Linked DNA regions of Homo sapiens: regions 2 and 3 are each linked to region 1. The links come from fine-mapping of genetic effects on gene expression. A gene starts in region 1. Each other region holds a variant in brackets. All regions are shown on one strand. Distances are between the middles of the regions.

What was found.
Region 2: its variant is fine-mapped to the expression of STAP1 in whole blood (INTERVAL, PIP 0.93).
Region 3: its variant is fine-mapped to the expression of STAP1 in whole blood (TOPMed, PIP above 0.99).

The regions. Positions count from the first base shown.
Region 1 is chr4:67,557,552-67,560,323 of GRCh38, reverse strand. It overlaps STAP1 (signal transducing adaptor family member 1), which reads right to left and starts at 1,597. Exons shown (of 9, transcript NM_012108.4): 1 at 1,395-1,597. The coding sequence starts at 1,514.
Region 2 is chr4:67,579,115-67,581,886 of GRCh38, reverse strand. STAP1 (signal transducing adaptor family member 1) reads right to left here. Exons shown (of 9, transcript NM_012108.4): 5 at 416-582. Among named protein-coding and RNA genes, the nearest start is that of STAP1, 22 kb to the right of the region's middle. The variant G/A (reference allele first, on the strand shown) is at 1,610.
Region 3 is chr4:67,605,146-67,607,917 of GRCh38, reverse strand. It overlaps STAP1 (signal transducing adaptor family member 1), which reads right to left. Exons shown (of 9, transcript NM_012108.4): 9 at 581-1,622. The coding sequence ends at 1,561. Among named protein-coding and RNA genes, the nearest start is that of STAP1, 48 kb to the right of the region's middle. The variant A/G (reference allele first, on the strand shown) is at 1,032.

The DNA.
Region 1 (2,772 bases):
ATACTCTCTATCTTATAGTTGAAACAGTCTCAAGGAGATTGAGTAACTTGCACAAGATCACAAGCTATAAGTGGCAAAACCATCAGATAAAGGACACTCTAAAATTCTTATTCTTTCTGCTAACCATACCAATGACATGTCTTCTTTAAGCATTTAAAAAAAACTGCTATCATAAACAGTTATTATAAATACCTTGGAAAACATTCAATGAACAACCTGATTTAAATTACTAATTAGAATTTTTTTTTCTCAACTTCCCTTTCCTGGCAAAGTGTGACTATGTGGCTTACCTGTGGTGACAAGATTGAATTTACATTAAAAGCATATAGGATCAATCTAAAAAATTCTAATATAACTGAAAGGTAATTATTTATGCATGTTTAACATCCATAACAGAATACAAATTACCATGTCTTTACTCTCAAATAGTAAATGATCTGATTATATATGTAAGAAATGTGAATATGCTATTATAGATTTTTCATATATATAATTTTTCCACAAGTATTCATAAATCCTCAGAAAATATATTTTAGCATCATTAAACATTTCTGATGGAATTTCTGAAAACCTTAAAATTTTTCTAGTTTTAGTCAGTATACAATTTCATAAAATTTGACCTAACTTAATGATTTTTTTATTTAATAACAGGCAATTTTGGGCTTATTTCTCTAATTAATTTCAAGTCATCCATAATTACTGTTTTAAAAGTAATGATTTTAACTAACTATAAGTTTTAATTATTACATTTAAAAATACAGAATGCTTCATGGATTTTCTTAGAGCAAAGGTATTTATGTAGCTTAGTGTACTTAATACCCACAGTAGTACCCCAAAAATTAAAAGTCACTATCTTGAATAGTATTTTAGAACACATAACTATATATAATGTTAAACAGTATGAACTTTGTCATTTTAACAATTTTTACAAAAGCCATTTTTAATAATTTGATCATTATAAACTTCAAATGACTCAGAACAGGAGCAGGTTTAATTTTAATCATGATATCATTTTATCTTAATGGTACATGTCATCATTGAAGCATAGCAATAAATTGTGGAGAAAATACAAGAAACATTTTATCTCCCAAGCCAAAATCTTTTGTGATATTTAAATAAATTCTTTGGAAATTTAGCTTATTGACTTTTTTATATTAGTGCCTTAATATTACAACCTCTGTTATTATACATATTATATATGTGTATACATACAGGTTTAAGCCAGACATTGTATTTAAATTATGAAAAATTGGAATCATTTTTCTGAGCTCAAAGAAGAGAAGATGATTTAATTTCAACAGAAACAAGGAGGTCTTAACACATCACATCACCATGAAATAAATATTAAATTAAAACAGAAGTCTTAGGTTTAACATTATCATCTATAGACTCACCCGGTATCCTGACCGCTTGATTAATAAAAAACCTTCAAAGTACAAAGGTAGAGCAGTAATCTTTAACCTTTCCTGGAAGATCCTGCGAGGGGCTGGTTTTGGGGGCTTCTTAGCCATCATACCCCTCTCTTTGGTGTGTGGTTTGGTTTCTCGTCTCAAACAAAATGAAATCTTCCTTCTGTGAGAGGAAAAGGCAACTGTTCAAAGAGGAAGTCCCAAATTGCTTTTTAACCACCAACACTACCACCAACAGGACACACACACACACAGACGCACACACACACACACACACTTTTTTTTCCATTACTTTTTGTGAGGTAAGAAAGAACAGGTGTAGACTGACTTTCAGAGGGCAATCTCTGGGTAATCCACATGTGCTTAGATTTAAAGCGCAAAATAAACAGAAGATTAACATCACCAGAAGATGAAAGAAACAGGTGTAGAGATTGTGAACTTTAGGGGAGATATCAAGAACACAGTTATTCTTTCTATCTTTGTTTTTGTTTATTGGTGTCCATTTTTATTTGCAGAAGACATGACTTGAATAAACTCAGCTTCATTAAAAATTACTTCATAGAATAATTTTATTAGTACTACTTCTGTTGGTTAAATATTTTAGGGTCAAGTTTTGTGTAAATAAAAAAAATAGTTGTATCTCATGCTCATTTGATGCTTCACTAAATATAAACCACAATTATGGGAACACGGAATATGGAATTTTTTTCTTTTTTCTTTCTTTCTTTTTTTTTTTTTTTTGCCAGTAGATATTCCAAGTACATGAGTTCCCAATGAATATTTAGTGCTATGTTTTGAATGTGTCCTCCAAAACTTATGTGTTAGAAACTTAATCCCCAATGCAACAGTGTTTAGAAATGGGACTTTTAGAAGGTGATTAAGTCATGAGGCCTCTGCCCTCATGAATGAATGAATTAATTAATGCTGTGGGAGTGGGTTTCTTTCTCTTTTTTCAGAGGCAGGGTCTTGCTCTGTTGCCCAGGCTGGAATACACTGGTGCAATCACAGCTCACTGCAGCCTTGACCTCTCAGGCTCAAACAATCCTCACACATCAGCCTCCTAAGTAGCTGGGACTACAAGGCACGCGCCACCACTCCTAGCTAACTTTTTCATTTTTTGTATAGACAGTATCTCCCTATGTTGCCCAGGTTGGTCTCAAACTCTTGGGCTCAAGCGATTCTCCTGCTGTGGCCTCCCAAAGTGCTGGGATTACATGTGTGAGCCATTGCACCTGGCCTGGAAGTGGGTTTTTTATAAAATCAAGTTTGGCACTTTCTCACATGCTATCATCCTCTCTTGCTCTTCTATCTTCTGCCATGGAATGATGCTGCATGAAGGTCCTCATCAGATGCTGGCCATGTT
Region 2 (2,772 bases), 22 kb before region 1:
ATGACTACTGACTAATTGGTCAGTTGAATAGAACATTCTAGGTATTGAAAATTTATTGGTATAATTTTCTGAGAGAAAATCAGTCAATCATAGAGTTTGCATAGTGAAAAAATATCTTTTCCTGCCTTCTTCATGGGAGTTTTTATTTAGGCGTGAGCTCTGGAAAGAGTATCTATTTGTTCTAAAGATGTGGGTGGAAGGGGATTTCCTGTGTGGTAAGATGGTTGGTTCAAATCTGCATTTTGTTGATCATGACATAGAAGAGGAAATATGGCATGTACGCAGAGATATACAGTTTATCCCCAAGACTGCTTATTGTCCCTGGCTTAACAAGAGCAAGTGACTAACTCTCCTTTATAATTAGAAATTAGTTTTAACAATCGAATGAATAAACTGCAGTTCATTGTGCACTTACGCTGGCATAGGGTTCAGTACATCCACATAATCTTCAGTTGGTTCCTTCTCTTTTTCCACGGACGTACTCTGCTCTGTCTCAATCCTCCTTTTCTTTTCTCTCTCTAGGACTTCATGCAGTTTAATTACTTGCCCAGGTAGGAGTGACACGTTTTGGGGAACTGACAGCTGAAACCAATTAAAAGAGTAGGCAGGCAAGAAAACAGCTTAATAACTTATAACTTTAGTAAAGACGACCCTGTTCTGGTCCTATAGGGCTACAGTTACCTGACAGAGGTGAATGAGTAGGGACTAAGGGAATAAGAAACAGAGGATTTTAGTCTAGGTTGGGTGTTTCAGAACCGCCTCTGCACCAACTACAACCTGCACAGAGTGCCTACCCTTCTGCCAAGGAATCATCCTTTTGGTTTGGCCCCAAAGCAAAGAACACCCCGCCTTGCACTAAAAGCTAATTCAAGTAACAACAAACCTCATATTTTTCATTCTGAGCTCACTAGTTCATCAATGCCAGGGATTTTCCAGAACACCTTCAAGGTACCTCACTCTCTCATAAGTTATCTGAAAAGATTTCCCCCAGCCATATGGCAACATGGGATTCAGATGGAACTGTTCATTAGGTGACTGAAGAGCAGCAGTCAGAGGTCGAAATTTTGCGTCTGTGGTGTGTTTCAAACATTCATTCACATGTTAGAATTATGATACTTTTCTACTTATTAGTTGGTTTTGTGGTGGTTGTTACCTTTCCTAGAGATGTATTTCAGATTGACTCACCTATATATGTCCTTCTGATTTATATTCATACCTGCAATTTTGACCTCATTATGACCAGCTCTGTGCTCTTAGAAGGTATAGTGTGAATGGTAAGATATTTTTTGTACGTGACCCTAGCAAGTCTTTATTTGGAGGCAGCCTTGTGTGATTATCACCTTTATCTTCAGAGAAGAGTGCATGCTTTCCAGGAGGTATACAAGAAAGTCCATTAGAGTATGGGAAGAAAACATTATAACTTCACTTTCTATTAAGTTACTATTTCACTAATTTCTATTATTATATATGTTTTAATATGCGTACAAGTACATATAAAATTTACACAAACATTTACTAATACAGATACACAATAAAAAAGGCTTAGAGACATTTTAGATAACTAAGATAATAACCAGTAAAACAATTTCCATATATACCAGAAAAAAAT[G/A]AAATAATGGGGGAAAATACCTAATGAAACACATATCTTTATTAATTGACTATTATAGCTCAAGCATTGTACATGTTTTATTGCAACTCCTCACAGAAATGCTAGAAAGTATTGTTATACGGGAGGGCGCAGTGGCTCATGCCTGTAATCCCAGCACTTTGGGAGGCCAAGGTGGGTGGATCACTTGAGGTCAAGAGTTCAAGATCAGCCTGGCTAACATTATGAAACCCGTTTCTAATAAAAATACAAAAATTTTGGGTGGCATGTGCCTGTAATCCCAGATACTTGGGAGGCTGAGGCAGGACGATTGCTTAAACCTGGGAGGCGGAATTTGCAGTGAGCCGGGATCAAGCCACTGCACTCCAGCCTGGGTGACAGAGCAAGACTCCATCTCAAAAAAAAAATGGTATTGTTATCCCCAATTTACAAATGGTGACATAGTTTGGATATGTGTTCCCACCAAAGCTCATGTTAAATTAGCCCCAGTGTTGGAGGTGGGGCCTGGTGGGAGGTGTTTGGGTCATGGGGATGAATCTCTCATGGCTTGGTGCTTTTCTCATGTTAGTGGGTGAATTCTTGTGAGATCTAGTCATTTAAAAGTGTGTGGTCCCTCTTCCCCACTCTTTCTCTTTCCTACTCTCACCATGTGATATGTCTGTTCCCCCTTCACCTTCTGCCATGAGTAAAAGCTCCTTGAGGCCCTTCCCAGAAGCTGAGCAGATGCTGGCACCATGCTTCCTGTACAGCCTGCAGAACCAGGAGCCAATTAAACCTCTTTTCTTTACAAATTACCCAGTCTTAGGTATTTCTTTATAGCAATGCAAGAATGGCCTAATACAAATAGAAAAAAAAATCAAGCACAGAAAGATTAAATAGCTAGTCCAGAGTCAAATAGCTAGTAAGTTATGGAACCAGGACCCAAACTGGGGTTTATTTGATTCAAAAGCAATGTCTCAGCTCTTTCAACTACATACAGTCTGAGCTTCTCTCACTTCTCTACTAAAGTCATCCTAATAACAACATACTGTAAATGTTCATATACCATGATCTGGAATCATAACACAAAACAACATTTACAGAATACACAATTTGAGGCAACTTGTCTTCTCTTAAAAATTCACATGGGCTGGGCGTGGTGGCTCACACCTGTAATCCCAGCACTT
Region 3 (2,772 bases), 48 kb before region 1:
AATTTTTACATTAACAGTGATTTATATAAATACTCAATACATTTCAATAAATACTTAACATTAATGCTCAGGCTTTATGTCCCAATTTTTTTTTTAGACAAAAAGTAAACATTGGGTCATATTTATTATACACTTTTTTGTCAGGTTTAAACTAAAATACAATCTCATTTGAAATTTAATAAAGTATTTTCACACTCCAGAAATTAAAAGATCAAAATGACATAGAGAAAAGCATTTCTCAATGTTTTCATTTGTCATATTTATGATTCCTTATTAATTGTCACTGCCTCTCCATTTAAAAGAAAGCCTGACTTGATTTTGCATATATTGCTACACAGATTATTTATCTTCATATTATAGTAGATCTTAAAGAACTGGTTCTCAAATTTGTTATGTATAGCAATTACCTGTGTTGTATGCTTAAAAGGCAGATTTCTGGACCAGCCTCAGCGCCGCCCCCCCACCCCCAAAATTATAATTCAGTAAGTCTGAGAGAACTCTTCATATTTTCAGGCATCCCAGGAAGCTCACTGAATTAGTTCGGTAGGATTGTCATTACAAATACCACAGACCATGTGGATTAAGGAACACAAATTTATTTTCTCACAAGTCAAGAAGCCGGATTTTCAAGGTTTTGGCCAGGTTGATCTTTTTTTCCCCCCGAGGCCTCTCTCCTTGAGTTGTCAATGGCTGTTTTCTCCCTCTGTCTCACATAGTCTTTCCCCTGTAGAATATAGACCATATCTTTTCATTCTTAGTTGATTGTGTGATTCCCAAATTGATAACCATCAAAATCAATTTAGAAGTTTGCTTTTGAAGAAAAAAATTATGAAAAAATATCCCTGTTATTTTGATTCAGTAGATGCAGTCTGGGGCTGATGGTTCCATATTTTTAAGAACTCCAGGTACTTATAATCAGGCTCATCGTACTTACGACAAGATGATGATACAGCCTTTCACCATCTTTGTAAGGAAATAATGGGCTGATTTTGAGTGGCAAAAAGATGACACCAGGGAAAAACATGGGAATG[A/G]AGACATTTATTTCCATTAACAAAAAATGTGGTATATAATATTTCCATTGGAAAAGGGCTCCTCTAGTACATTTCATGTCTCTAACTTCCAGCTAGGTAATTAAAATGACATATTTGATAAATTGGTCAAATCAGATTTCAGCAAAACTTAGGTTTTTTGGGAATTGGTAAAATTTAGAACTAGAGAAACTGCTGTTGGAATTATATAGGGGAAATGTATTTCATTGAGGCCTAAAGAAAAAAATTCCATCTAGAAAGTACTATGTGTTTTCAACTTATGTCAGTGCATGGGAATGTGTATATCTGCAGGTTACCACCACAGCCGTAGTCTCTAGTTTCCCTGTGAATTGGTTTCATTCTGATAAGATAATGAAATTGTATGGTACAATGTTTAATTCTAATTCTGGTGTTCAGGTGAATGACTTGGTAATCAGTATCAGGAGAATATAGGTAATTCTCTTTAAAAGTAAGAACTTCGTTTTGAAAATATAAATTACCAAGATATACAAAGGAGCTTTCACATTGTATTTCATGCAATGTGTGGATTTTTCTTCAACTTTTCACTTCTCCCTTCCATACTGGGTTCTTGACCTAGAAATTGTGGGTAGAAAAACTTAATTAGCGAACCAATATTGTAGAAAACGGTGGTTCTTTATTTTCAGTGAGTTGATTTTCCTGCTCGTGTGTGGAACATTGCTGGTGTGTTTAGTAATTGTTAGGAAAATAAATACTGAATATTCAGATGCTTTTTTAAATTTTATTTTATCCTGGACCTGTAACTTTGTACCTAATAATTTTTTTCTTCCTCTTTAGCTTAATAGGCCTTATATTTTGAAGCGGCTTTTAGTTTAAACTGCTAATTTCTGGAGTTGGGAAATATCTTTGACCATTCTTGTTCCATTATTGCTCTTGTCTTCTGGTGTAAGAGAGAGCCAAATGCTGACATGGGTTAACAGGGATCAAAAAAATCTTATTTTCTTTTAGATAATATTTTATTACATATTAGCTTTTTCCAAATCTCCAGATTGGAACCCTTACCTGCTCTACAACTCCCATTTCCCAAGTTTGATGTACTAGCAGTCTCACTGTGCCACAGCCAGCTATGAGTCCAAATTCCTGAAGCAATGTTAGGGTTCCACAAAGTTTTCTTAAAATATCAGCATTATTTGTCAAGATAAGTTTTTATCTTTGTGTAGCTTTTCTTAAAAAGTCCTATTTTCATTGTCATGTACTTTTCCATCATTTTTCTGCTTTTGAAAGAAAATACGTTACACTACAGATAATATTCTAATTATTTAAAGTCTTTCTTCACAGGACCCTCTAATTCCATCTGTTCTTATGTCATTCCCCAGTCCCTATAACAAAGGCATCTGAAATGCAGGGGGAGGCTGAGTAGTTTGTTCCCGACCACAAAGCAAACTGAACACATTCAGTCATATACCAATAGCAATCTGGTTGTCTGTTTCTAAAATCCTTAAGGTGCTTTTTTTTTTTTTTTGTATTGTCTATTTTTTCTTCCCTGGCCCTGCCCTGAGGGTGGGGCCCCTAGTCAAGGTGCAGTACTTTGGCAGTGACAGCATGGGCACCTAAAACCCCAAGAGAAAATTTAGCCTTCCAGCCAGAGAAATCAGGAAAGGTGGGCAGAGGGGAGAATTGGAATTACATTTTTCTCTTTCTTATCTCTAACTTTCTTGGAGAGATTGGGCAACTGCAGTCTCACAGAACTGCAATTACAGCACAG